Regions from separate parts of the Homo sapiens genome. Here region 1 is reported to be linked to region 2. Evidence: microRNA targets listed by miRTarBase, many of them from high-throughput screens and not tested one by one. Region 2 holds a microRNA gene; the other region holds the end of a gene's coding sequence.
What was found. Region 2 holds the annotated microRNA hsa-miR-135b-5p (UAUGGCUUUUCAUUCCUAUGUGA, at 7,402-7,424, shown strand). A microRNA usually pairs through its seed, bases 2 to 8, with sites in the 3' UTR of a target mRNA and lowers its output. Matches are read on the target gene's strand: a 7mer-m8 pairs with bases 2 to 8, a 7mer-A1 pairs with bases 2 to 7 and ends in A, and an 8mer does both.

Region 1 (14,833 bases), not on the chromosome of region 2:
TATGCTTCCTCTGGCTCTATATGTATATTTGAGACAACCCTCCATTCCAATATCGGAGCTTGGGCAATAGGAATTTCCATTAATATTACTTTATTAAGAAGGTAAACTGAATACCAGTTTAATCATGAATGTGCCCAGAGTCAAAAGAAAATCTGTTATGGTTTTCCATTGTTTTGGATCTCTCAAGGCACTCTCTTCTTAGCTTTACACTTCCTTCCCTACTTAATAAAATATGAATTTGGCTGATGCAGTCAGGAAGCACTTTTCTGACTGCATAAATGTCTTCTCAATAGTAATCATGGGGGTTAGAGTAAGAACATTCTTGGTCTGATGTGAGCCAATCATAAGAAAAAACAGACATCATCTGGGAGAAATAAAACATCCCCCTAACCCAGAGGACCTATGTCAGCTGAAGCAAATTGTGGACACTAAATAGAATGGCGTCAGGGATTCCATCCCAGAGGACACATCTTGCATGGCTTCTGGAGACCATTACTCAAGATGTCAATTAGACTGTGCTGTATGCACTGAGATAAGCATCCCCAAAGGGCTTTACTTGGAGTTTGTTCCAAGTGATCAGGAGAATGAGATATTTTGCGGAGTGAGCCTGAAGATAACAGGAGAATATTCTCCTCAGGGGCCAATTAACTGTGGAGATAAAAAATTCTTAGAGTCCCTTGATTGTTTTTCACTTGGGAACCCAGATTTCTGTAACGCCTTTCCACGCAACCCTTTTGAGAAGACAGTCTGAGTAATAATATCTAGTCTCTTTTGCCCACAGGACCCTTTTGAGGGTTTCCATGTGCCATATCATAGGAAAGAAGTCAAGGAATAGAGGCAGGCAGTTCCCATCCTAGCTGTTGATCGTACTCCAATTTCATAGACTACATGAATATAACATGTCAAGAGATTTCAGGTCGAGTGCGGTGGCTCACACCTTTAATCCCAGCACTTTGGGAGATGGAGGCAGGTGGATTACTTGAGGTCAGAAGTCTGAGACCAGCCTGGCCAACATGGCAGAACCCTGTCTGTACTAAAAATACAAAAATTAGCCAGGCATGGTGGCACACATCTGTAGTCCAAACTACTCGGGAGACTGAGGCAGGAGAATCACTTGAACCCGAGAGGTGTAGGTTGCAGTGAGCTGAGATCGCACCACAGCACTCCAGCCTGGGTGACAGAGTAAAACTTCATCTCCAAAAAAAAAAAAGAAAGAAAGAAAGAAAAAGATTTCAGACACAGAGGGAAAAGGAAAAAATGGCATAACCCTACCTCTCCTTCTTATGCACTCCGATATCATTCTCATACCCTGCCCTTCCTTTCCATTATAGGGATATGTTGACCTCTTCTTTGTTTCTCCATCTCAACTCAAATCCTAAAATGTTTTGCTTCACTGATATTCGCTGGTTGTTTAAAATTGTGTAGCACTCTCCCCAACTCTCTCTCACTCCTGCTTTCTCCATGTGACCTACCTGCTCTCACTTTGCCTTCTACGGTGAGTAAAAGCTCCCTGAGGCCTCCCAAGAAGATCATCGGACACAAGCACCAGGCTTCCTGTACAGCCTGCAGAACCATGAGCCAATTAAACCTCTTTTCTTTATACATTACCCAGCCTTGGGTACTTCTTATAGCAATGGAGGAATAACCTAATACAGATTGCAAATAATTTCTCTCATTCAATAGGTGGGCTTTTTATTTTTATTTTTTATCGTTTCTTTGCTGTGCAGAAGCTTTTGAGTTTGATGTCTTCCCACTTGCCCGTTTTTGCTTTTGTTGCCTTCTTTTGGTGTCATACCCAAGAAATCATTATAAAGGCTAATGTCAAGAAGCTTTTCCCTTATGTTTTCCTCTAGGAGTTTTATGGTTTCAGGTCTTACATTTTGGTCTTTAATTCATTTTATGCTGATTTTTGTGTATGGTGTAAGAGAGGGGTTTAATTTCTTTGTTTGCATGCGGATATCCAGTTTTCCCAAAACCAGTTATTAAAGAGACTATCTTTTCTTTTTTTTTTTTTGAGACGGAGTCTCACTGTTTTGCCAGGCTGGAGTGCAATGGCGTGATCTCGGCTCACTGCAACCTCTGCCTCCCAGGTTCAAGCAATTCTCCTGCCTCAGCCTTCCAAGTAGCTGGGATTACAGGCACATGCCGACATGCCCAGATAATTTTTGTATTTTTAGTAGAGACGGGGTTTCACCACGTTGGCCAGGATGGAAAAGAGACTATCCTGTCTTTATTGTGCATTCTTGGCACACTTGTTGAAGATAAGCTGACTGTATATGCATGGGTTTATTTCTGCACTGCCTATTCTGTTCTGTTTGTCTATCTGTCTGTTTTTATGCCAATACTGAAGCGACATCATTTGTCTGGGGAAATACCCAAGGTTCGTTGTCTTGTGCTAAGGAAATCAAATATGAGGACACATACAAGGAGTGGGTTTAAGAGCAGAACTTTAATTAAAGTGAAAGAAAGAAGACAGAGCTTCCTCATGCAGAGGAAGGGAACCAAAGTGGGTTTCCAGGTTTGGGGTGAGATGCAGTTGACTTTATAGAGGGGCTTAGAAAGGCAGTGTCTGATTTTCATAGGGCCCATGGGATTGGTTGGACCAGGTGTGCCATTTACATAGCCCGTGATTAGGCTGGCCATCCCACCCTAATCTTTTATTATACAGGTGGGATCTCCACCTGGCCAGCACCATGACATCTGCACATTTGGCAACAAAGAGAAGGGAGGAGAAAACCTCCATGTTGGATGTACCTGGCTTCCAGGTATCTCTTTGGTATCGGCACGGCTGCCAGTATTCACCTATGCAAGCTTCCAGCTTGTGTATCAATGCTTGCAGCTTGATTTTTCAGGTTGATTTTTGTTAGAAAAGAAATGATGTGGGGGCTGCTTTTTATTAAAAGGAAATTCCACTGAGAATTCTTTTACCCTTACTAACTGCCTAAATAATTCCTTTTTAACTTCTATATCAGTATCATGCTGTTTTGATTATTGTAGCTATGGAATATAGTCTTAAATCAGGACTTGTAATGTCCCCAGCTGTGTTTTTCTTGCTCAAAATTGCTTTGGCTATTTGAGGCCTTTTGTGGTTCCATGTGAATTCTAGGATTTTTTTCTATTTCTGTAATAAATACCATCAGGATTTTGATAGAGACTGCACTGATTCTGTAGGTTGCTTTGGTAATATGAACATTTTAACAATATTATTCTTCCAATTCATTAACATGGAATGTCTTTTCATTTATTTGTGTTTTCTCCATTCCAAAAACAACATAATACACATTCTTATCATCTGCAATGGCACATACTCTAAAATCAACCAATCAGCCATAAAACAATTCTCCACAAATTCAAAAAAACCAAAATCATACCAACCACACTCTCAGACCACAAAACAATAAAAATAGAAAACAATAATAAGAATAGCAATCAAAACTAAACAATAACATGGAAATTAAACAACCTGCTACTTAATGACTTCTAGGTAAACAATGAAATGAAGGCAGAAATCAAGAAATTCTTTGAAACTAGTGAGAACAAAAGATATAATATACCAAAATCTCTGGGACATGGCCAAAGCAGTATTAAGTGGAAAGCTTATAGCACTAACTGCCCACATCAGAAAGCTAGAATCTCAAATTAACAACCTAATATCACACCTTGAGGAACTAGAAAAACAAGAGCAAACCAAATCCAAAGTCAGTAAGAGACAAGAAATAACCAAAATCAGAGCTGAACTATATGAAATTCAGGTGCAAAAAAACCATACAAAATATCAATGAAACCAGAAGTCGATATTTGAAGGAATAAGTAAGATTGATAGACCGCTAGATAGACTAATAAAGAAAAAGAGAGAAGATCCAATTAAACACAATCAGAAATGACAAGGGGACATTACTACTGACCCAATAGAAATATTTAAAAAAAACAAAAACCTCAGAGAGTATAACAAACACCTCCATGCACACAAGCTAGAAAACCTACTAAAAGTGGCTAAATTCCTGGAAACATACAATCTCCCACGATTGAACCAGGAAGAAATTAAAAATCTGAACATACCAATAACAAGTTACAAAATTGAATTGGTAATAAAAAGCCTATCAACCAGATAAAGCCCAGGATCAGAAGGATTCACAGCTGAATTCTACCAGATGTATAAAGAAGAGCTGGTATCATTCCTGCTGAAACTATCCAAAAAACTGAAGAGGGACTCCTCCCTACCTCATTCTATGAGGTCAGGATCATCCTGATACAAAAACATGGCAGAGACAAAACAAAAAAAGAAAACTTCAGGTCAATATCCTTAAAAAAAACATAGATGGAAAAATTCTTAACAAAATACTTGGCTGGGCTTGGTGGCTCACACCTGTAATCCCAGTACTTTGGGCGGCCGAGGAGGGCGGATCACGTGAGGTCAGGAGTTTTAGACCAGCCTGACCAATATGATGAAACCCTGTCTCTACTAAAAATACAAAAATTAGCCAGGCGTGGTGGCACGTGCCTGTAATCCCACCTACTCAGGAGCCTGAGACAGGAGAATCGCTTGAATCCGAGAGGCGGAGGTTGCAATCAGCCGAGATCAGGCCATTGCACTCCAGCCTGGGCAACAAGAGCGAAACTCCATCTCAAAAAACAAACAAACAAAATGCTAGCAAATCTAATCCAGCAGCACATCAAAAAGGTAATCCACCACTATCAAGTAGGCTTTACCCCTGGGATGCAAGGTTAGTTCAACATATGCAAATCAGTAAGTGTAATTTATCACATAAACAGAACCAAAAACAAAAACCATATGATTATATCAATATATGCAGAATACATTGGGAGTCATCCACCTGCCCTCCCACCTGGGGGTTGGGAGGGCAGGTGGATGACTACAAAGCGGATACACAGGGTAATGATAGGATGATGAAACTATTATATTTGGTACTGGAGTGATAAATACATAACTCATGCATTTGCCAAAACCCATAGAACCATACATCAACAAGGAGTGAACTTTGATATACACAAAATTTTAAAAATTAAACAGGATGTTCAAAGAATTCCAGGATGAAATGCAGACTGTGAGGATGACTCTAACTATATTACAAATCTTTATTACACAATCTCACTGAAGAATGGAGTGGTAGGGGAAGGAGCTGAATAACTTTGGAAAATGCTGTTTTGATGGAAAAACATAAGGTGAAAAATAAAAGGAATTGTGCACAAACACTGTACTCCAGTTGATAAATTTCTCACTGGGATACAGGTTAACAATTCTGAATCTGCTTTGCGTGTATGATGGGGTTATAAATAAACAGATGGTGGATGATCAGAGAAGAAAATTACAGATGATAAGAAAGGAGGGAAGGCTAGAATGAATCTCATGGAGCTGGATTACAGTTGGAGACATTAGTATTAATTCATGCTTAGCTGAATATAAATATAGATGGGTAGACAAAGAAATAATTCTAGAAGTGTGTATATATATGGGTATTGTGATGGTTAATAATGAGTGTCAACTTGATTGAAGGATGCAAAGTATTGATCCTGGGTGTGTCTGTGAGGGTGTTGCCGAAGGAGATTAACATTTGAGTCAGTGGGCTGGGAAAGGCAGACCCACCCTTAATCTAGGTGGGCACCATCTAATCAGCTGCCAGCACAGCCAAGATATAAAGCAGGCAGAAAAATGTGAAAAGGCTAAACTGGCTTAGCCTCCCAGCCTACATCCTTCTCCTGTGCTGAATGCTTCCTGCCCTCAAACATCAGACTCCAAGTTCTTCAGCTTTGGGACTCTGACTGGCTTCCTTGCTCCTCAGCTTGCAGACAGGTCTGCATGATATGCAGATACCACCGGAAAGTGGACAACTGCAGCACTACAGCCCCTTTCTAGGACATCCCTGAAGGACAGGAAGTCTGTTAGCTAATTCACTGCATCAGACTAACCTGTAAAGGTGTGTGACTTAAGGTCTGTCATGGCCTTAGGTCTTATTTATAATTTGGTATCTTATTGTCACAGAGCCCATTTTGTTAATCCTGTTGTCTCTATTTTAATATTAATGTTGGGCAGCTGTTGTGTCTAAACTCCAAAAGGGAGGAGGTGCACCTGAGACACGTCTAACTTCTCAGCCCATCATGGCCAGAAATTTGTTTTTCAGGTTTCTCCGGAGTCCCCTTAGCCAAGAGGGGGTTCATTCAGTCAGACGGGAGGCTTAGGATTTTTAGTTTACAACTGACAGTTTATTTTCAATCCTGTTTGTATATCAAGAAGCATGGGAAAGAGTTTATGGGTGGATTTTTTTTTTGGTTGGCTTTTTTTTTTTTTTTTTTTTTAATTGATCATTCTTGGGTGTTTTTCACAGAGGGGGATTTGGCAGGGTCATAGGACAATAGTGGAGGGAAGGTCAGCAGATAAACAAGTGAACAAAGGTCTCTGGTTTTCCTAGGCAGAGGACCCTGAGGCCTTCCGCAGTGTTTGTGTCCCTGGGTACTTGAGATTAGGGAGTGGTGATGACTCTTAAGGAGCATGCTGCCTTCAAGCATCTGTTTCACAAAGCACATCTTGCACTGCCCTTAATCCATTTAACCCTGAGTGGACACAGCACATGTTTCAGAGAGCACAGGGTTTCGGGGTAAGGTCACAGATCAACAGGATCCCAAGGCAGAAGAATTTTTCTTAGTACAGAACAAAATAAAAAGTCTCCCATGTCTACTTCTTTCCACACAGACACGGCAACCATCCGATTTCTAATCTTTTCCCCACCTTTCCCCCCTTTCTATTCCACAAAACCACCATTGTCATCATGGCCCGTTCTCAATGAGCTGTTGGGCACACCTCCCAGACGGGGTGGTGGCTGGGCAGAGGGGCTCCTCACTTCCCAGTAGGGGCGGCCGGGCAGAGGCGCCCCTCACCTCCCGGACAGGGCGGCTGGCCGGGTGGGGGGCTGAACCCCCCACCTCCCTCCCGGACCGGGCGGCTGGCCGGGCGGGGGGCTGACCCCCCCACCTCCCTCCCGGACGGGGTGGCTGGCCGGGCAGAGGGGCTCCTCACTTCCCAGTAGGGGCGGCCGGGCAGAGGCGCCCCTCACCTCCCGGACAAGGCGGCTGGCCGGGCGGGGGGCTGACCCCCCCACCTCCCTCCCGGACGGGGCGACTGGCTGGGCAGGGGGCTGACCCCCCACCTCCCTCCCGGATGGGGCGGCTGGCCGGGCAGAGGGGCTCCTCACTTCCCAGTAGGGGCGGCCGGGCAGAGGCGCCCCTCACCTCCCGGACGAGGCGGCTGGCCGGGCGGGGGGCTGACCCCCCCACCTCCCTCCCGGACGGGGCGGCTGGCCGGGCGGGGGGCTGACCCCCCTACCTCCCTCCCGGACGGGGCGGCTGGCTGGGCGGGGGGCTGACCCCCCCACCTCCCTCCCGGACGGGTCGGCTGCCGGGCGGAGAAGCTCCTCACTTCCCAGACGGGGTGGCTGCCGGGCGGAGGGGCTCCTCACTTCTCAGACGGGGCGGCTGCTGGGCGGAGGGTCTCCTCCCTTCTCAGATGGGGCGGCCGGGCAGAGACGCTCCTCACCTCCCAGACGGGGTCGTGGCTGGGCAGAGGCGCTCCTCACATCCCAGACGGGGTGGCGGGGCAAAGGCGCTCCCCACATCTCAGACGATGGGCGGCTGGACAGAGACGCTCCTCGCTTCCTAGATGGGATGGTGGCCGGGAAGAGGCGCTCCTCACTTTCCAGACTGGGCAGCCAGGCAGAGGGGCTCCTCACATCCCAGACGATGGGCGGCCAGGCAGAGACGCTCCTCACTTCCTAGACAGGGTGGCGGCCGGGCAGAGGCTGCACTCTGGGCACTTTGGGAGGCCAAGGCAGGCAGCTGGGAGGTGGAGGTTGTAGCGAGCCGAGATCACGCCACTGCACTCCAGCCTGGGCACCATTGAGCACTGAGTGAACCAGACCCGTCTGCAATCCTGGCACCTCCGGAGGCCAAGGCTGGCAGATCACTCGCGGTTAGGAGCTGGAGACCAGCCCGGCCAACACAGCGAAACCCCGTCTCCACCAAAAAAATACGAAAACCAATCAGGCGTGGCGGCGCGCGCCTGCAATCGCAGGCACTCGGCAGGCTGAGGCAGGAGAATCAGGCAGGGAGGTTGCAGTGAGCCGAGATGGCAGCAGTACAGTCCAGCTTCGGCTCGGCATCAGAGGGAGACCGTGGAAAGAGAGGGAGAGGGAGAACGTGGGGAGAGGGAGACCGTGGGGAGAGGGAGAGGGAGAGGGACAGGGAGAGGGAGAGGGACTTGGTTGGCTTTTTAAACAAAAATGAACACCTAGGTCCCATCCCATACCTGATGAGACCAGAGGGGTCAATATCAAGACTCAAGCACAGAGACAAAGAATTGTGAAGAATAAGAAGGGTAGGGGAAAAGAATTTTTTCTCTGTTGAAGATGCAAGTTCTTTGCAATCGTATGAAGGGGGACTCATGAAGGCTTAAAAGGAAAAGTTTGGAATCATTGCCACCAAAGACGTTAAAACAAGTCAAGTGATAAAAAAAGTTTACCATGCAGCTCAAAGGGCCCACTTGAAGGCAGAGAGCAAGGATTTATAGCAGAATCAATCAACCTTTCAATAGCCAGAAGGAAGAGAGGAGGGAAGGTACTGATGAGTTTCCAAAGGATTAGCTATTAGTAAGACAGGCACTGAAGGACGTCCTGAAGGGCAAGTGTAGTCATCATTTCCTAAGGTGGCCATAACAAACTGGGTGGCTTAAAACAATGGAAATTTACTGTCTAACCTCAGTTTTGGCAGTTAGAAATCAGAAACCAAAGTGTTGATGGGGCCATGCTCCCTTCAAAGCTTCTAGGGGAAGATTCTTCCTGGCTTCCCCCAGCTTCTGGTAGCCCCAGGTTCCTTGGCTTGTGACAGCATAACTCCAATCCAATCTCTGCCTCCATCTTCCAGAGCCTCTTTCACGTTGTTTCCATCTGGCATTTTTCTGTGTGTGTGTGGGCATGAGTGTGTGAACATATGCATAAGTTTCCTTCTTTTTATAAGGACACCAGTCATATTGGGTTAGAGCCCACCCAAATGACCTTATCTTGTTTACATCTGCAAATATCCTATTTCCAAATAAGGTCATTTTCACAGGTAGCTCTTCAACATATGTTTTTGGGGAACATAATTCAACCTATAACAGCAAATATCCTGGGAAGTTGAGAACTCAGTAGAAACTGTTGAATGAGGGGGCTGCTCAGGCTGAATAGGAAGACAAGCCAAGATGGCTGATGTATAAGAAGGGGAGGAGGGGAGGAGGAGTTAGGGAAGATGCTGTAAGTTGTGTAAGAATCCTCACTACCACCATTCAACCCAGCAATCCCATTATTCGGTATATGCCCAATACCCAAAGACATCATTCAACCATAGAGACATATGCATGTATATATTCATTGCAGCACTATTCACAATAGCAAAGACATGGAATCAACCTAAATGCCCATCAACAGTAGACTGGATAAAGAAAACATAGTACATATACACCATGGAATACTATGCAGCCATAAAAAAAGAATGAGATCATGTCTTTGCAGCAACATGGATGGAGCTGGAGGCCATTACCCTAAGCAAACCAACACATGAACAGAAAACCAAACATCACATGTTCTCACGTATAAGGGAGAGCTAAACATTGAGTACCCATGGACACAAAAAAGGGAACAACAGACACCAGGGACTACTTGAGGGTAGAGGGTGGAGGAGGGTGGGGTATCAAAAAAGTATCTATTGGGTACTATGCTTATTACCTGGGTAATGAAATAATATGTACACCAAACCCCTGTGACATGTAATTGATCTATAGAACAAACCTGCACGTGTTCCCCTTAAACTAAAATATAAGTTAAAATAAAATCCTCGTTAAATCACTGCCTGAAAGTCTTTACTGAAAATCTGGGAGAAAATATATTGAAATGTTAGTAGTGCATAACTTTAATTTTTATACTTTTTGCATCTTACAAACTTTCTACAATAAGTACACATGACTTATATAAACAGAGAAAAGCAATCATTATCTTAAAAATAACTATCCAGTAACTGCCACAATCTCCTGAGTCCAGACAATCTAGAGCAGAAGGGTAGACTGAGGAAAATATACACAGTATAAAAAAGTAACAAAATCAAAACCTGAAACAAAGATCAACATCCAATAAATGCTTCTGAATAAAGGGAGAGTAGATAAGAACTGGATTTTAATCCCAACACTGCCATTTACCAGCTGGCCAATACTGAGCTAGTTACTCTAAAGAGTTCAGTTTTCTCATTTGTACAAATAGGATTTGACTTTCCATCTCACTGAGTTGTGATGAGAGTCATATGCAACAGCATATGAAGAGGCTAGCAAAAGATATTTAACAAGCGTTCAACATTCTCATGATGACATGAATAACACTGTACATACAACATACCAACTTGATAAATACACAGCACAGTTAATAGCTGAGGGCAGAGTTATGGTTGGGAAGAGAGAGAGTGCAACATAGGCAGAGTGAGGGGGGATTCCCACAATTTTCTAAGACAGAAAAGTGGGGGAATCAGTAGTTACTGGAAAGAATAGGCAATGCCTGACTGGATAGAAAAAGATTCTATGCCTTTGTCAAATTTCACAAAAGTGACTTAAGCCTATACTGCGGGATGTTCACACTACGTCCCTTTAGTGCAGTTACGGTACTTCAGGCTGCAAGTAACCAAATACAACTAAAATTGTCTTATACAATAAGGGCGTAATTATCTCATATAACAAGAAGCTTGGCATGAAGGAAATTTCAACAATTTCACAACGGCAACAAAAACTCTGTTTCTTCTACCTTTCCACCATTCCTGTGTTCTCAGTTCCAATATGGCTGCTAACATCCATATGTCTTCCCCGCACATCTCTTTAAAAGCTACAAAAAGATTTCCCAAAAGCGTCTTGGAAAATTTCCTGTCCCATCTCCATTGGCCAGACCCACCTCCCATGGGACTGCCTCTTGTGAAGCACACAAAGGGCAGATACCAAACGGTACCGTTAGGGAGACCCAGAAGATGGACCATCCAGGATAGAGACATGAAGGGCAGAAGAGGGCCCAGGGATGTGTGTCCCTCAGCTGGACTACAGGGAAGGAGTTTTGGTCAGGGGAAGAAAAGCCTCATTTCCTATCAGTCACTGGTGGAATGACTAAAGATGCTAATGGACTCAACCAAAAAAATGGCCGGAGGCGTGAGACAGAAGAACAAGAAAAGGTGTGCAGGTGCACTCCGTCCACAGCGCTGTAGAAGGAGACATTCCCAGTCCCACGATCCAGGTAAACCCCCACTCGGTGGAGAGCTGGCTCTTGCTGGGTGGGAGTTCCAGGGAAGCCTATCAAGGGCCAATAGCCAGCAGCACTCCAATAAATCGCCCAGATGCCCACATCTGGGGACATTTTTGAACGATCAGTAATTCCCATGACGTCCTCCCGACACACCCCAACAGCAACCTCCAGACTATCTCTACTCTCAACTTCCCAGTAATGTTTCCCTGAGGTGAAAACGTTTTTTCCCAGAACACAGGGTAAGTGCTGAAATCTCTCTACAAAAGCAGTCTTCTGAGGATTCCTCCATCCAGCAAAGTAGTTCCATGCTGAAGAAAACACTGGCCAAGAACTGGCTGATGCTGTATTTTTCACGTATCTCCCTTCCTGGGAGAAGACGAGTTTGGGATGAGCTGTGTCTTCAGCTAGGTTTACAGCCACTGTGGAGAAAATGAGAGCTAAGTAGTGCAGCAGCTTATCATCAACCCTTCCCCAGAAATGCCCATCTTTTCCAGCATCAGTTTCATCTTTCTCCTCCTAACAAACACTCATGACTCCACTGCTGCCCAACTGATCCTCAGCCAGGCCTAGCAGGCCACAGCATGGCCTTTAGCAACCTGAAGTCCTCATTTCCCTTCTGCTCTAAAAGACTAAGCCCTAGACCAGGCGCAGTGACTCATGCCTGTAATCCCAGCACTTTGGGAGGCTGAGGCAGGGAGATCACTGGAGGTCACGAGAGTGAGACCAGCCTGGCCAACATGGCGAAACCCCGTCTCTACTGAAAATACCAAAAAACAAACAAACAAAAAAACTGGCCCGGCATGATGGTGGGCACCTGTAATCCCAGTTACTGGGGAGGCTGAGGCAGAAGAATCACTTAAACCCAGAAGGCGGAGGTTGTAGTGACCCGAGATCGTGCCACTGCACTCCAGCCTGGGTGACAGAGCAAGATTCTATCTTTAAAAAAAAAAAGACTAACCTCTAGAAACTGGGGATCTAATTATTTCATGCCCCAAGTTTTCACAAACAGCCTAAAATTTGGAGAGATATTAACAAATTCTCACGTTGAATCAAAACTAGAACCAAGGCTGCCGACTAGCTGGTTCTTTGGCTAGATACACACAGGTGTCACATAGGACAGAATAATGAGGTCTCTTTTCACGGGTTCCAGTTGTTTATGGGGCATCTCCACAAATCTCCCCACAGATCATTCAAAACTGAACTAATTATCTTACTTACACCCCCTTCTATACTCTCGGGACTAATCCACTTCATATGCAGACATCTTGCCTTCTATGTTCTCTAAGGTGTCAGAGTCCCCTCCACCTGAACACTCATGCTTTTAAATCTTTATTTTCGACTCTTTCCTCTAACCTTCAATAGCTAGTTAGTCACCAAGTCCTACCAATTCTACCTCTGAAATTTGTCACTCAGGTTCTTTTCCTCCCCTCCACTCCCATTGCCACTGCCTTTACTCCAATCTCCAGTGTCACTCAATGTGTTAATAATGTCCTCCCTGGCCTCCCTGACTCCAAATTCCCTTCCCTCTAACTCTCCATGTCTCTTGAGTTTGAGGACTTTTTTTAAAAAAAATCAGGAATGTATGCTAGAGTTTGACAAATGCTTTTCCTGCTTCCACTGAGACAATCACATGGTTTTCCTTTTTTTTTTTTTTTTACTTTAGTGATATAAACTACATCGATTTTCAAATATTAAACCAACTATGCTCTTCTGGGATAAATCTCACATATTGTGATTATTATACATTATCCTTTTTGTATACCAAAGGATATATAAATTGGTTGTGATTATTACATATTATCCTTTTAATATATTGTTGGATTCAATTTGCTAAAGTTTTCTGAGAATTTAGGTATCTATGTTCATGAGAGACATTGATGTATAATTCTTTTCTCTTGTGACGTCTTTGTCTGATTTTGGCATCATGGTAATACAGGCCTCACAGAAAGAATTGGGAAATATTCCCTCTTCATCAATTTTCAATAGGAGTTCTTGAAGAATTGGCATTTATTTCTTAAATGTTTGGTGAAATGTTTCACCAAGAAAATCATCTGGGGACCAGGCGCGGTGGCTCATGCCTGTAATCCCAATGCTTTGGGAGGCCAAGGCAGTGGATTACGAGGTCAGGAGTTCAAGACCAGCCTGACCAACATGGTGAAACCCCATCTCTACTAAAAAAAAATACAAAAATTAGCCAGGCATGGTGGCGCGCACCTGCAGTCCCAGCTACTTGGGAGGCTGAGGCAGGAGAATCACTTGAACCTGGGAGGTGGAGGTTGCAGTAAGCTGAGATTGCACCACTGCGCCCCAGCCTAGGCAACAGACCAAGACTCCATCCCCCCCCCAAAAAAAAAAAGAAAAGAAAAGAAAGAAAAGAAACAAAACGAAAGCCATTTGGAAGGTTTCTAATAGCAATTTCTTTCATAGAAATAAGATTATTCCAGTTATCTCTATCTTCATGAGTCAGCTTTTGTAATTTGTGTCTTTTAAGGACTTCATCCATTTCATCTATATTGTCAAGTTTATTGGCAAAAAGTTGCTCTTAATATTCTATTATCCTTTTAATATCTGCAGAATCTGTAATGATGTCACCTTTCTCATTTCTGACATTAGTAATGTGTGTTTTCTTTTTTTCTGATCATTTTGATTAAAGGTGTGTCAATTTTACTGAAATTCTCAAAGGACCAGCTTTTGGTTTCATTGGTTTCTGTTGGCTTTCTGTATTTCACTGCAATGATTTCTGCTCTGATTTTTATTATTTCCATTCTTCTGTTTACTTTGGGCTTTACTTGCTCCTCTTTCTCTAGTGTCTTAAGGTGGAAGCTGAGGTCAGTGATTTGAGAAGTTTCTTCTTTCCAATATAGCACTATACACTTTTCTTTAAGTTTTGCTTTAGGTGCATCCCACAAATTCTGGTATATTGTCTTTTCCTTTTCATTCCATTCAAACTACTTCCTAATTTGCCTTTTGATTTCTTCTTTAATTCAAGGGTTACTAAAAAGTCTATTATTTAGATTCTTGATATTTAGGGGGGTTTCTAAGGATATTTTGATACTGATTTCTATCAATTCCATTGTGATCAGAGAACATACTCTGAATGATCGGAATCCTTTGAATTTGACACTTGCTTTACAGCCAGCTTAGTCTATCTTGGAAAATGTTTCACGTACACTGAAAAAAATATGTAGTATATAGCTGTTGGGTAGAGTGTTCTATAAATAATGGGATCAAGTTGATTGATAATATTATTCAAGTCTACTATATCCCTGCTGATTTATTGCCTAATTATTCTAAAAATTATTAAAAGGTACTGAAAACTGCAAACGTAATTGTGAATTTGTGTATTTCTTCTTGCAGCTCTATTAGTTTTTGCTTAATATGTTTGAAGCACTGTTAAGTGCAGAAATGTTTAGAACTTACATTCTCTTGACGAACTGACCACTTTATCATTAGGATATAACATTCTTTATCTCTGGTAATATCCTTTGCTCAGAAATCTACTTTGATACTAATATACC
Region 2 (14,833 bases):
CTAAGGCATGGGCGGGATGCGGGTTCAGGCACTCACCTGAAAGCTGACCGGCGGCGGGCTGCGTCAGCCGCCGCCCTAGGTCGACCAAAGAGGAAGCCCCCTCCCCGCCCCCATTGCCTTTGTTCCTTTTAAAGGATTTTGCCGCTGGTGGGATTGGGGGGAGTGTGAGAGGGAGCCTTGGCTCCGGAGGTAGCCGATCCTCCTGTCCCCGCTGAGTGAAACCCGCTTGGAGTGCCTCCTCCGTTTCCTTTATACCCCATGGTATGGAGTGGTATGAGGAAGGGGCTGTAAAGGGGTTAGGGATCAGGGGTTTGTGACACCTGTGCATATGTTTGTCTGGTACCCTTGGAACAGAGGGCCCCAGGAGACCCCAGTTTGGGGCCTGGGAGAAGCCATGTCCGTGGGCCAAACCACCAACTCCAGTATATGTGGAGGCAAACATGGTCCCAGGCTTAGAGGAGACACCAGCTACTCCCCACACACATCAGAGTCCTTCCTAGCCATTGTGTCTGTGGGGTCTAGGTCTGGCCAGACCTCTTGGCCATAAGCCTGCCTCCCACTGCCTCCCCATCCCTGGGGCCCTTGCATGCCTAAGAAAGGCCGGAGCTAGGAGCCCACCTGGAGGAGGAGCTCTGGCCGGGTAGGGGCCCAGGAAGGCAGCTAGACAAGGATAGGTGCTCCCTTTCCTGAGAAAGGGTCCATAACAGGGTGCCCCCGGGGAACAAGAGCTGGCCAGCCCTGCCAGTGCTGAGCTGGTCAGGAGAGGGCGTCTGGGGGCCCAAGGGAGAGCCCTCCCTTCCGACCAACATTCCACAGCCTCCGTTTGGAAGTGCTTGTATACTGCCTTCCTTTCCTCAACCCTCATTAACAAATTCTTCTTTTGGTCTGATTTAATCTTTCCTGACGATTTTTTTTTTTTTACATACCTTAATCTGCCAGTGAACAACTTTTCTCAACTTGAGCCTTAAGAAGGGCTAACTTTGGAGGAAAAGTCAGCTCTTTTGAGGCTGGGATGGGAACCCCTGGTGAAAGAGCTCTGAATTGAGGGGAAAGGGATTGTCCTCTAAGAAACCCCCTTTAGGGGTAATTTTGGTGGCTTATGCCCTCCAGGAGGACACAACGGAGGCCTGGGGCTGCAAACAACTTCTATCTCTCAGTCATTCAATGCCGGCTTTCCATTGCTCCACTGGGGCTGCCACAGAGGCAGGAAAAGAGGATCTCTCTCTCTCTCTCTCACACACACACACACACACACACTCACACCAGATAACACTTCCTCCAAGTAGTATTGGGCACTCTCTGAGACTCAGGGCCCCTCCCATTGCCCATACACCACCACCCCCCACCCCCATCCCACGCACCCCACACACACAAAGAGAACATCCAGGAGTCTCAGAGCTGGGGACTACCATCCTAAAGGCATGAAGAGGAAGGAGAGACCCTCAACTAGGGAGGATCAAATTCAGTGTAACCCTGGAAGAGGTGACATGAAGACTGGGTGGCAGGGGAGACCACAGTCCTGCTGACGTGACTGCTCTGAATTGCAGTCATATGCATATGGGCCTGTCTTCCCACTGGACTGCCTGCTGGGCCTCCCTGAGTGCTGTCTCCTGGTGCCTAGCACGGTGCCCATCCCACTGTCTGTGCTCGGTGCATATTTGATAAATGAGTGGTGTCCCTGAAGCCATTCTCCCCACCCTTCATCTCTGTCTGCCTCCTCCTCCAAGAGGTACTCCACAGGGGCTTGGGAGAGCCCAGTTCCATAGTTCTTTGGGCTGGGGCACCATCACCCCATGGGGGTTGAGGAGGGGCATGGAAGAAAAGGGGTGGGGGCAGGAATAGTGCTTGGGCAGACACTGAGACATTTCGATATTCATAAATTGCTCAGGTTGAAATGCATGTGAGTTTGCCAATGACCCATTCTTATATTTTTCTTTAACAGCTTTATTGGCTGAGAGGCAAAACTGTGGCCTGGGTCCTGGACTTGGGGAGGCTAGATTCTTGTAACACAAGAACCTCCCTGTGTCCTCCCTCCCACAGCCCAACCTTGGAGCTTATTGGAGATCAGATGCAGAGGCTGGGGGTACCCAGGCTGCGGAGACTCCCCCAGCTTCTGCCCGTGTTTGCTCTCCTGCCCCTGGGTCTCTTGCTATCTTCATTGCCTGGGACTATTGCCAGGTCTCCCGTCTCTCCCTTCCCTAAGAACCCAGGGCTGCCAGGCTAGGACCTCCCTCTGTTTGCCTGGGAAGTCTCAGAACTGAGGCTCCTGGAACAACTAGAGAAAGCCCTTGGGGGAAAAATTGTGCTTTCCTGCTCAGTGGAGCAGTGCCCACCCCACTTTACCTCAGGGGGCTGGGGGCTCCCAAGCTGTTAAATGAGAGGGAACCTGAGCTGTCCATCCTTTGGAGTAGAGATGGGACCTCGGAGCAGAGGGGACCGGAGTCATGGGGAAAGGCTACCTAGTGGCCTTTCTCCGTAGCAAGCACACTGCTGGTCTAGTGCAGGTCTGGAGGACAATGTATGTGGGAGCCTGCTGGGTCCATCTTCATGAAACTAGCCTTCTCGTGCGTTGGTTCTGGGCCAGGGACTGCACCCACAGATCCGTCTCAACCACAACTCCGAATCTGCAGGCTTGTTTGGGGCAGATAGCAGAATCAGATCCCCTGAGGCTCTCTGAAGTTTCAGCAGTGCCTTCCCACCCCCATGTGAGTGGAATTAGATTTCCAGGCTTTGCTGCCCACTCACACCCCATAACCTGTTCCAGCCCAGGGACTCTCTTCCCTGAGGGGACAGGCATAAGGGAGCTCCAAGCACACACCAAGCCTGAAATACAGGAGAGCTTAGATCTCTTGCTCTTGTTTCCAAGCTTTATCAGCCATTCATTCATTCATTGAATGTATACCTATACCATTCAGCCAACATCCATAGAATAATGTGAAATGCTTCTGATTTAGTCTTTTTGGATTGGAGTATATGTGGGGTGGTAAAAGCAAGTGGCTTTTATTTAGTATCTTCCTAATGTCCTGGTTCCCTTCCACCATAGGCAAAGGCAGGTCTGCTGAGCTCTAAGTCCCTGCAAAGGGTACATAAGTCTATGAAAGGCTCTGAGAGGATGAGTAAGCTCCAACGTAGACTCATGAAATTTTGGAGTTGTTGGGACCTTAGGTTTTATCTGTCTAACTTAATTCCAGATGCAAGGATCCCTTCTACATTAGCTTACCATTTATTGAGCAGCTACTGTGTGCCAGGCAGTGGGTCTGAGAAGTGGCTGTGCACCCTATGTTTGATGATCTCTGGTGACAGGGAGCCCACTGGCTCCTGTTGGAACAGTCCTACTTCTTTCCTTTCTTGGACTGAGCCCAGTTTGCCCCCCTGGCCCTTCCCTCTGTGACTTTCTCTGCTGCGGAGGGGTAATGGTTCACTTTTCTGGCAAAGGAGTTCTCCTCCTGGCTTAGCCTCAACCAGAGCCATCTCCAACCAGTGCCCTGATGTGGGCTGAGGTCCAGGGTGGTGACTGTGTGCCCTTGAAGGAAATGGTGGGACTGGGGGCTCCCTAAAAAGGGAGTTGCTGCAGCCTGCTCCCCAGTGAAACAGGCTTTAGTTTTCATGCTGGACCTGGCTTCTGCAGCTTGCACTAAGATTAAGGGACTTGTTACTACAGAGGAGGGGAGGGCACACCCACCAGCCAATCAGGCCAGGGACACCTGAGGTCTCTTCTCCCCAGCCCTCCCTCCGCCTCTTGCCCCAGGCCCCCTCATCTCTCCCTGCTGCCTCCGGTTCTGCCTGTGCTCCACCTCTGCCTCCAGTTTCTCTTTGTCAGCATTCTTCTTTTCTGGCTCTCTGCTTTCTCTCTCTCAGGCTTCTCCTACCCTCTCCTCTAAGAGCAAAAAATGCCCATCCAGGCAAGTTGTAGCCTCCATCAACCTCAGTTTTCTCATCTACCCAATGGGAATAATAATAATAAATATTTGTGTTACTGAAAGATGATCATTAAGGGGGACCTAGATGCATGACACAGTTTTCACTAAAAAAAAAAAGTTGCTTTTCCCCTTCTCGCCTTTTTTCTCCCATTGAGTTTCTTCTGCATTTCCATCTGCTATCACCTCTGTCCTCTTCTTCACAATTTCTCTCAGTGTCTCCATTCTGTGTCTCTCAGTTCCATCTCCCCCTCACTCCTGTTTTGTCTCCCACCTCCTTTTATTCCCTCTTGGTTACCCCCCCGACCACTCCCCCCAACTCCTGCCACAGGCGGCAGGGCCCAGGCTGTGCTGACAGCAAGGGCAGGCAAGCAGGGCGGGTGGCTGTCTCCACTTCTCATCAGAGGCCCAAGAATGTGTGGAGTCATGAGGGACAATGGGAGCCTGCGGCAGGAAGAATGGGGCCTCTGTTGGGGCAGAAGTTTCCCAAATCCGGCTGAATGGGAGTACCTGAGGGCTAGGGAGGGGTGGAAACTCCTGAAGTGGAGAGGAGGCCACTGGTGGTAGGTGTGGGGGATGGGCAAGGCTCTAGAATTGGCCACCATGGGAATTCTTAGCATCTGTTGGCATTTCTGGGGAGAGCTCAGACCTCAAAGGTGACTGCCTCTCTCCCTGGAGTGGCCAAGGAGGAAAGGGAGGAAAGGGATCCTGGGGGACAGAGCCAGGGGAAGCTAAAGAGAAAATGTTCCAGTGGCCCTGTGAGGTGGCCCTTATACACAGTGGATATCCCTTGGGCCCCTTGGGCTGCTGGGCCCCAGTTCTCACCACCAGCAAGCTGCAGAAAGGTTGTGGTGGCCCCAGAGGAGACAGGAATCGTGGGCATGGCCCCATCTTGAGGAGAGGGAGTCCTCGAGGTTCTCGCCCAGCAGTGGCCTTTCACTGCCCAGGTTCTCGGGATTGGAGGAAGCAGGGTTTTCCTCGGGAAAGGAGGTGAGGCTTGACCTGCTTCCTCTTTCTCCATATTTCAAGTGAGGTTCACTCCAGCCTGAGACATGATGGCTGTCCCCACCTCCATCCCCAGCCCAGTCCCTCTGGCCCAGACACACCTTAGAGAGAGATGCCCTACTTCCACAGCTTACTTGGGGCTTGTCAGGTGGGCTGGGATTGGTAGGCAGGCCAGGGGCTGAGCCCTTCATGTGCCCAGGGATAGGCAGCTGGGATTGGCAGGCTATGGCTGGGAATCCGAGCGCAGGACTGGGTGAGGGTGGGTGGAGGGGGCCAGGCTCGAGCAGGTCTGAGAAAGGAAATGGAAGGACAGATAAGTGCTGACCTTGTCCTCCCAGGGCAGGGGAGTGGTGGGAGCAGAATAGGGGTATGGGTGAGGAGAGGAACCAGGGCTGCGGAGAAGGGGAGGGGGGCCAGGCAGGAGAGGGGGGCCTGCAGGGAGCCGTCTCAGGTCTCCTGCCAAAAATTAAACTATAAAAAAGCTGGAGGGGAGCGGCAGGGGAAGGAAGGAGAGAAAGGAGATGGGGAGGGAGGGAGGGACCAAACAGCCCCTCTGCACCAATAGCCCGGCAGGGGGACGTGAGTAATACATGGCTGGTTCAGAGGGAGTGAGATCAAAAGCCAGTAGATACAAGAGGTTTGTGCTTCACCGACCAGACAGCCAGAGGCTCAATGAGACCTTTGTTACTCAGGCCCAAGTCAGGGTTGAAGGAATACCTGGCTGCCCCGCCTGCCCAGCCCGCCCCCACCCCCACCCCCACCGTCCTCAGGGCTGGGGGAGGGGCCGGTCACAAGTGAGTCAAGTTGAGTTGGGTACAGCTCAGCCCTGGCCGGTGGTGGGCGGGCAGGGGGAGGGAGGAGGCCTGCCCTCGCTGGGGCGTGGAGCTTCTCGGGGTGAGTGGAGGAGTGAGTGGCTGCCTGGAAGGCAGGAAGTGGCTCTGCGGGGAATTGTGAGGCGGACTGCGAGGGAAAGGGGGCCTTGTTGAGTCCGCCAGGTGAGCAGCCCCTGGGACCCCCAGCCCCTGGCCCAGCATCCCTTGGGAGGGAGCTGAGGGCATTCTGCCTAGAGTCCATGGCTTTATGCAGGGCCTGGGTCTGGGGTTCTGGGGGCCCATGAGAGAGGAAGGAAAGGAGAACCAGAGGGGGTTGGGGCTGGGGCAGATGGCCCAAAGTTCAGGTGGGAGGCCGCAGGATGCCTGGTTGTTTGGCCCTGAAGGTTGGGCATGTCTGGAGTGTGTGGAGGGGCGTGCTGTGCTGTGCTGTGTGCTGTGTGCTGTGCTGTGCTGTGCTGTTGTTGGGGAATGCAGGATTCCTGTCCAGTGAAAACAGGTTGCTTCTACCAGGGTTGTGCAGGGAGCCAGCAAGTGTTGCCCTGGGGCTGAGGGTACAGTTGGGGTGGGAGAGGCAGCTACTCCCTGGCAGAGGCAGGGCCTGATCTGGGCCTGGGGCCTCTTACCATCTTCTTGGGGGCCCCTGGGAGAGGTCTGAGGCCCCTGGGGCTTTCCTGAGCCTGGGCTAGCAGGAGCCCTAGAAGCCCACTTCTCTGAAGCTGATGCCTGCAGCTGACCCGTCATGGGAGCGGGTGGGGAAATAGCACTTGTGATTAGAACACACCTTTTCCAGGGCCCTGAGACCTTGGTTCGCCTTAACTCAGCTCTTCAATCCAGTCCTAGAGATGTCTGTGCTAACCCCCATGTCCTGCCAATGAGAGCGGCAGGGCACTGCGCACCCCTCCCACAGCCTTGTCAGGGATGGCTCCAGAGTGAGCTGCCCTCAGCTTGGGGAGGTTTCAGCTGAAGCCCTCTTTCTGACTCCAACCAGGTCTGGAGACAGAGATCTCACTCTCCTCTAAACTATGCAAGAATGGGTGTTGTCGGTAACCACCCAGACTGGTCTGGGTAGGTTGGCCCAGCCCCCACCCCTGGGGGCACTCAAGAAACCTATTTAACCCCTCTAAACAAAGGGTAGGTCCTCATCGCTGCCCTCCTTTACCCAGACCCTCCTTTGCCCTCTGTGCTTCCAGTGGCTGGACTAGAAAGAGTTAAGCTTTGTAAAGAGGGAGCCTAACCTGGGGCCCCCCATCCTGGGTACTGGCAGCAGCAGCCTTGAAAAGATCCGGCCTTATTCTCTAGGGAAGGGGTAGTTAAGGACCCTGGGCAGGGGGCTGGAAGCTAATTAAGGGAATTTGAGGAGGTCCTTTATGGCCAGGAAGCCACCCCTCCTCATACCCTGGAGTGAGGACCATTGTGTGAGGCCTTTGTAGGGCAAGAACTGGAAACTCATTACTGGGATGGCTTTAGTGCAGGTGGTGGAAGATGGTGAGAGAATTTAACCTGGGGGGCCCAGTCCTGGAGGGAGGCAGTGTGGGTGGGTCTGGGGTCGGGGGTGCTGAGAAGGGGAGTGAGGGCTTCTCGGGTGCCCCAGCTTCTCGCTTCCCTATGAGATTCCTGCCGCTGGACCCCTCCACTCTGCTGTGGCCTATGGCTTTTCATTCCTATGTGATTGCTGTCCCAAACTCATGTAGGGCTAAAAGCCATGGGCTACAGTGAGGGGCGAGCTCCTTCTCCTGCGCAGCTGCACCTCCCATGGGACCAGGTTCGGAGCCAGCCACCAAGGGGCACCAGAAGGAGGCTTTGCTTGGGGGTGGGGCATCACGGGATCTGGTAACCTGGGATCGGGGCTAAGCCGTGTGACCTTGGCCCAGTCACTTCCCTTCTGGCCCTGTTTCCTCACTCTGGAATGAAGAGACTGGGCCGGTGATTCCAGAGGGAGATTCCCTCTGAGGAAGGAAGGAGACCTTCAGGGTGTGCTGAGCTTTCTGAGTCGGTTCCTTCCCCCTTGCCAAATTACTGAGGCCTGGCTTATGGCCAGAGATTTGGGGGCTGAAGTCAAGGGCCTCAGGCCATGAAGACTTGGGCCTTTGCTCAGTGCCTCCAGGAAAACCTCACTCCTTCACTCCTTTCTCTGAGGTCAGCTTGGAATCTGCAGCCTTTTTTCTGTGTAAGGAGACCTCTGGGCTCTTTCTGAGGCTGAAATGGGAACACTCCATGCCGGCCACGAGGGAAGAGGAGGTGTCTGCAGAGTGAAACTAGGAAGGCAGGCGCTCCCCCGGGCGACAGGCTGGACTCCAGGGTCCCTGGCTCCTGGTGTGCTACCATCTCCAGGAGCTGCCCCCTCCTGCGGTGTGTGAAGGGCACCAGCCCTCCCTGCCCCCGTCCTGCTTGTCACTCAGCTTGCCTGGCTCCTCCCTATGCCTGTCGCCACTCCCACATTCCTTCCCCTGCCCCCTTTTAAATCGGCCTGATTTTAGCCCTCCCATCCTGGAAGATTCCAACAGGTGGCTGTGGTGGAAGAGGAAGCATCCTCGTACCCCGCCTCCTACTCCCTGTTCCAGTCCCCAGTCTGTCTAAGACAGACCACTGAAGAATCACAGAAAGCACTAGATTTGGTATTGACAATCAGAAGGCAAGTTTCTTATAATATCTCAGAGCCCTTAATTTCACCAACCAACACTTACTGGGTACCTACTATGTACCCCATGATTCTAACCGCCTCACCTGCACTAACCCATTTCATCCTCAAGACAGTCCTGTCTACTGTTAGCCTATTTAACTTATGGGAATTCTGAGGCACAGGGAGCTAAGAAATTGGCCCACGTTCATATGGATAGGAAGGAGCACAACTGGGACGTGAACCCACGTGGTCTGGTGCCAAAACCCATGCTCTTAGCACATCATGCTGCATATTGGGAGAGCCAACACCAGTGCATGGGAAAGTACTCTGAAAACCAGGGAGTGCTGTACCCAGACGGGAGGTTGTTCTCACGAGATCTCTATTGGATGCACGTCCACAAATTGGCCCCGTGGCCCAACTCCAATCACCCTTTGTCCATCACTGGTTTTCCTTTTCCCACAGGAGGTCGGGGGGAGCGGGGGGATCAGAACAATAGGAGAAGCAAAGAGAAATCCCAAGCCAGCTGGGTTTTTGCTGGGGCTGATCCAGGCTACTTCCCCTCCTGCCCCAGCTTAGATGGTGAAAGGAACAAGGCATGAGAATTGGCCAGGGTTTCTTACTTGCCCTCTGGGTTCTCTCACCCAGAGTTCAGAGATGGCTGGCACCTTCCTCCACCTCCCTCATTGTCCAGCTGCCCTGGGCCCACAGTGAGCCTATCCTGTTCCCTACCCTGCTCTGAGGCTGTCCAGGCACCTGATTTCCTTCCCTTAACTCCTGATCTCCTAACTGGAAAGCCAGGTTAGAGCCATGCCACCTTCCTGCCCCCTGCAACTGGGCCCCTCCCGGGAATCCTGTTGTTCAGTTTGCCCGGGTAGTCCCCAGCACTGGGCTCAGCCTAGGAGGAAGGGTACAGATGAGCCATTCCAGAGATTATACCTCTGTAAAGCTCTAGCAAGGCAAGGGACTTTGTAGGGATGGCTGAGTAAATGTTTGTTGAATGAAGTACGAACTGGGAGAAAAGATGGATGGGGTAAAAGAGGTAAGTTGCCACCAGCAGGGACATAGAGCAAGCCCACAGCTCAGCAACTCACCCGAGACAGTCCTCGCTTTGCTGGGGCTGGGCCTGGATTGCTTCTGGGGGTTACAAAGGTGGATCTCCATTCTATTCTTTGTCTCTTGGCTACTGCCAATGGGACAGGCCTGGAGAAGATATGTGATTGTATATTTCACATGATTGTTCAATTGCATTGAATAAGCAAGTTGCCCTCATGTCCCTTCTCCCTGGAGGATTCACAGATCAGAGGGCTGTGTGTGTCCTGTCCCCTGCCTGCAGACGGCTGAAACTTTATTCCCAGCAATCTAAGTCTTTTTTACAGTCCTCAGATATACCCAGCATAAGGCCTCCCTTGCGAGAGTGGGCCCATGTTTAACAACACTGAATTCAGATGACTCTCTCTTATTGTATTTGTTCCATTTTTAGTGGAAATAGAGTTTGACTACTAAGCCCTACTCCTTCCTAAATATAAAGACTATTGGGGAAAAAAAGTCTCTCTCCCCATCTTTCGAAAGTTTGACACTAAAGTTTGACCTTTGGGGTTCATTCTGGCGCTGACAGTCTGGTCCACCAGGTTCCCAGCTGCTGCTGCCTGTCACGTTGCCCACTCTTACGGTGGGCCAGCCTCTGCCGAGCCAGGCTGGAAAACACTGAGTGCAGGCCACAAAGACATTTCAGGACTATTGCTGCTCTGACCTCTCCAGCTCCCAAGAATCTCAGAACCACTGAGAATGCTTGGCTGCCCTTGCAGTCTGGAAAAGTGGAGGGAGCTTTCTCCATAGGTGGGCAAGCAAGATACAAGGGTGGCTGGTCTGGCAAGCTAGGGTCTGTGGTCTCTGAAGGCCATTGGAGGCAGAGGCCTTGGCCTGTGATTCCAGAGAGCTCGGTGAGCCAGAGGCTAGAGCTCAGGCTCAAGCAGGCCAAGAAGGAGTTAACCTCCAAGGAGAATGCGGGCTTCTCCCAGACTGGAGGTCTGTGCCCAGTTTTGCTGGTGCCAACTCCGGGAAGAAGTCCTGGGATCTGTAGTTTGTGCCACCACCCACCCCTGGCCTGCCTGTTTATCAACACGGTCTTGTAGACTACAGTTCCCAGAAACCTGCAGAGGCTAGGCTTTGGGGGAAGGGGTGGGGAAGGAGGCTCCGTGGCGGCCAGAGGGAGAGGGAGAGGGAGGAGGTGGGGAGAGAAAACCCAATTCACCCCCTTCGTTTTTAATTCTTTCTCCTGGTGTGTCTGCTCCACCGCCCGAGCTAATCCCCCAAATCCGGTCTCCTAAGCCGCAGCTGCTTCCCTTCGCAGTGATGAATGGCTCAGGGAGGGAAGGTGAATTCATATTTTAATTACTGAGACGCGGTGCTAAGGGAGCCGGGGAGGGGGCGGAGGGCTCAGCTTTGTTCTAGAGGCGTCGAGGGCACACCCTCCTTACTGGGTCACTTCTCTTTTGCCCTTTACCTGGGGTGGGGGGTGGCGGGGAGTTAAGGTGGGGGTTGCCTTGCTGAGAGTGCCTCTGCTCTCTGCCTTGGGAGATGAAGGGATGGGTCGTGGGGGGCGCAATATCCCTCTTCTTGTTTATCAGAGAATTGCTGGCATGCCCCAGCACTTTTAAATAGCTTCCTAGCCTTCCACCCCCGCTGCCGCCCACTCTGATGAAGGACATTGCCAAAATTCGAGACACCTAGGAGTTTGTGGTCTGCAAGCCTGGGGCCCTGGATTTCTCTTTATCTTACTTTCTGGCCTGCTCTGAGTCTCCTCTTTCTCTTGGTTCTTCCACATGTTCATGCTGTCTCTGACTCACTGCCCCATTTTTGCCAGAGGTGCAAGGGTTGGAGGACCCCAGGAGAGTATCTGGCACAGAGAGATGTGGGGGTCAGGCCAAGGGAAAGGATCAGCAGGGAGGCCGAGGAACCTCCTAGTGGTGGGGGAGGACGGATGCTCTATGGATTGGCATCTCTTCTGCTTGGCTCCCACAAAGCTGGCTGGGCAGGGCATCGTCTGTGCCCCCAGACCGTAAACCATCTTGGACCTGAGCTGGGAAAAAGCCAGAGAGGAGGATGGGGAAGAAGCCAGGGCCAACAGCTTGCAGTCAGATGCAGCCAACTGTGTGGTAGCAGGAGGTTTGTCCAGTGTCCACCCTGCCTCTCCATCCTATTCTGGGCTTCTGTTTTTCTGGGGGCTGTTTTTCCATTCCTTAGTCCCTCCTGGACTATGGGCATGGAAAAGGAGGGGGAGGATGGGAGGGGAGTTCCCATGATGAGCTCTGATGAGTGGGGAGTGGACCCAGGTGCTAGTCCAGACTCCTCCCCCTCAAATAGACGCAGCAAGGGGACCTGACTTCAGGGAGCCTCCAGCTGGTACTGGAGCCCTCTGCCAAGGGTGAAGGGGTAAAGTCAGGGAAGAGAGTCGACAGGACTCCTGCTCGAGCAAAGCAGAGAGGAGCAGAGACCACAGCCTGGCAGAGGGACTCCCCAGGTACCTGCTGCTGGGGACTCTGAGGGAGGAGTGGGGTTCACAGCGGGCAGGGATACGGAAATGGGTTGGAATTCTCTGCCCCATGTCCCCCCACTTCAGGGGCTGGCCCGGCAATCTGCATGCTGCAGACAGAGCCCAGGCAGCCTCCGGGGCATGGAGTTGTGCACCTTACAGTGAGGACCCTTTTAGAGACCCTGTTAGAGAAGAGGAAGGATAACCAGAGCACTTTAGAGCAAAGATCTGAGCAGAATAACCAGGCCCTGTTTATGATACTTTCTACTCTTAGATACAAGGACCCAGGAATCCCACTGAGGCAGCCAGCCCTCGAACACCTCTCGGGAGCCAGGCTACAGCCCCTAGCCCAGCTCCTGGCCAGCTTCATTAGCTCTCCTTTCCTCTGATGTGTAGGTTCTGGTTCCTGTGACCTCACTCCCCATCCTTCCCTACAGTGACAAGCTGAGCAAAAAAAGCCAGGATTTTCTTAAATTCCCCAAAGGACCCTGGGGAGGAACGGGTCATTTAAGGGGGTATATTCTGCTGTTTTTAAGAAAGAACAGTCATTGAAAAGGAAGTGGGGTGAAAAGGAAAGGGGATCGATGCACTCTGGGGCCAGAGACCCTGAGCTGCACCTTGACCTGTTTGTGGGGCTGCTACCTGCCTGGCTTGTTTTAGTTGGGAGTTCCTTCCCAGATTAGCCTTGTTGTGCCTGTCAATTTCTCCCCATGTATTTTTCAATAATCATGGGACTGCTTTGTTGATCATACCCTTGACTTATATCCCCAGCAAGAGAAGTGCACGTGTGACAATAACTGATTACACGGGAATCCACCTGCCCTCCCTCCCTCCTTCCGGATCAAGTTAGGATTCCAGCCCCTTAGGTTTGGGGTCTTAGTGTTAAATCTTGCCTAATCTCCTGGTACACTGAAATGAGGTAATGAAGGCCCAGAGAGATGTAGCCACTTGCTTAGGATGACACAGCATGTTAGCATCAGAGCCAGGAATAGAACCCAGGCCACCTAAGTCCCAGATTGGATCCCCGTCTCTCTCTAGGTTTGTCACAGGAGGGATCCAGAGATAGCTGCAGGGGATAGATCTAGAAATATAGTAGTTGTGTCTTGGCTCTATATATATCCTGGAGGTTGCTCTCTGCTAACTATATATACTCCACCAGAGTGGGTGTGTAAATGATGCTGGAAATCGGGTTATTAAATAACCAGCCTACCTACCCATGCTGACTCAAGCTGGGCCTCCTGCCCATCCAGCTGGCCAGTGGAAATGCATTGCACCTATTAATTACAGCTATTAGCTGTATTACCGGGACGCTGAGAGGCTGAGGGAGGGGAGAATCTTGACAGGACTTGGATCCACCGGGCACTGTGCTTGGTGTGGGCCTTGGCTCTGTCTGGAGAAACACGAAGGAAGTTTTTCCAAAAGGGCAAGGTTGTCCAGACCAGTGGAACTGTCCAGAGAGCCACCATCTGGGCCATGCCACATTCCTCAAAGGCAGTGAAACCACTTTGCACATGTGCCTTGCTGGGGTAACCCAGGACATCCTATGCAATCTCTATTGCTTGAGGGGCTGGAGAAGGGAGGCGCCTCATGCTTCCCTATTCCAAACCCCTTCCGCATAGCCCTGTGCCTCCCTCCTTCCCCGCAGCACTTGGGCTTCACTCACCTGCTTGCCCCCATGTTCTTCCTGGAGAGAGGAGTGATTCAGACCAGGCCCCGGCCTGACCTCCACGCAGGGCGCTTTCCTTCCTTTGTTCTCAGCTTCTCCGCTTGAGTGGCTTGAGTGCACTTCTGCTCCCTTTCCATAGGCCCAGGGGCAGAGGAAGGGCAGAGAGGTGAACTGGAAAAATCTGCAGGTGGTTAAGGCTAGGGAAACCTAAATGAGCCTTTGGAGAAAGGGATACTCTTGCAGACTGAAGCTGAGCTCCTGAAGCTCCCTCTCTTCCCCAGCCAGACTGCAACAGATACCAGAGCGGCCCCTGGCTCCTGCTGAGGGCCGGGTCAGCCAGAGGTGGGGGACAGCGTGTCCAGCTGGGGCAGATCCAGCCTCAGCCTCTACCTCAGACTTATGTGCCAGGGAAGAAACCATGTCTTTACCCTTTTGTATCTACCTCTCAACCCTTTGCCCAGCATAGGTGCTAAATAAAAGAGCCTGTTGGCTAAAAGAACCCTCTTTGCTGTCTCTTCTCTGCATGGTGAGGATGGGATTTGCATTGCCCTGAGCAGTCAAAGGAAGGGTATAATTGCTCCCTATAGGCTTTCCTAGGGTGTCAGACAACTTGGGGTTGTTAAGGAAGGGAGGAATCTGACTCGGTCCCAGGTGTCAAAGTAAAGCTACACTGGATGAAGGGGTCCGCATTTGGATGGAGGAGGGCCTGTCGTGTGTGCAACCTGCAGAAGCGAGTGGAAGCCCCCAGCTAGAACCTGGTGTAAGGTGGCACAAGCCGGAGGCTATTTTAAGCCAGCTTGCTTCCTGTTCCCCAACCACAGGTATATGGTGATGAGGTGGGGCAGAGCGGGTGGGAGGGGAAAAAAGGAGGCAGCAGCTGGGCATTCTCTTTCCTCCCTTGGACTCACCCTGTCTCCAATGTGAGGAATGACATCAGCTCCACACAGATCAGGAAACACTGAGGTTTCAAAGAGCTGTTGTTTAGAGGCTTGACTCCTCCCCCAGCCGGTGTGAGAGACCTAGCGGGCCGCCTCAGGGAGTGGCAATGACTGGGCCAGACCCAGAGGGTTCTGGGAGCATTAACCCCAGCTTGCTTCTCTCTTCCTGCCTTTCTCCTGCCCCCTCTCCCTCCCCTGCCTTTCCCTGCAGATCTCTGGTGAGTGTTCCCCCAGCCTGGCGTAGGGCATGCCCCAGTTCACTTTCGCCTGCTTCTGTGGTCTCCACGGCTTCTGCAAAATGAAGAGGAAGAAGGAGGAAGTT

Region 1: the mRNA of TRIM4 is a reported target of hsa-miR-135b-5p. Seed matches in the 3' UTR shown: 7mer-A1 at 10,861-10,867.

Annotation. Positions count from the first base shown.
Region 1 is chr7:99,881,013-99,895,845 of GRCh38, forward strand. It overlaps TRIM4 (tripartite motif containing 4), which reads right to left. Exons shown (of 6, transcript NM_033091.3): 6 at 9,391-11,734. The coding sequence ends at 11,151. Among named protein-coding and RNA genes, the nearest start is that of OR2AE1, 11 kb to the left of the region's middle. RefSeq lists an enhancer at 6,258-7,025.
Region 2 is chr1:205,440,952-205,455,784 of GRCh38, reverse strand. MIR135B (microRNA 135b) reads left to right here and starts at 7,387; the gene lies at 7,387-7,483. BLACAT1 (BLACAT1 overlapping LEMD1 locus) reads left to right here. Exons shown (of 2, transcript NM_001397426.2): 2 at 14,723-14,833. The coding sequence starts at 14,759. It also overlaps a transcript of LEMD1 not described here. RefSeq lists a silencer at 5,593-5,802 and enhancers at 9,493-10,004, 10,005-10,516, 12,051-12,563, 14,284-14,403, 14,805-14,833.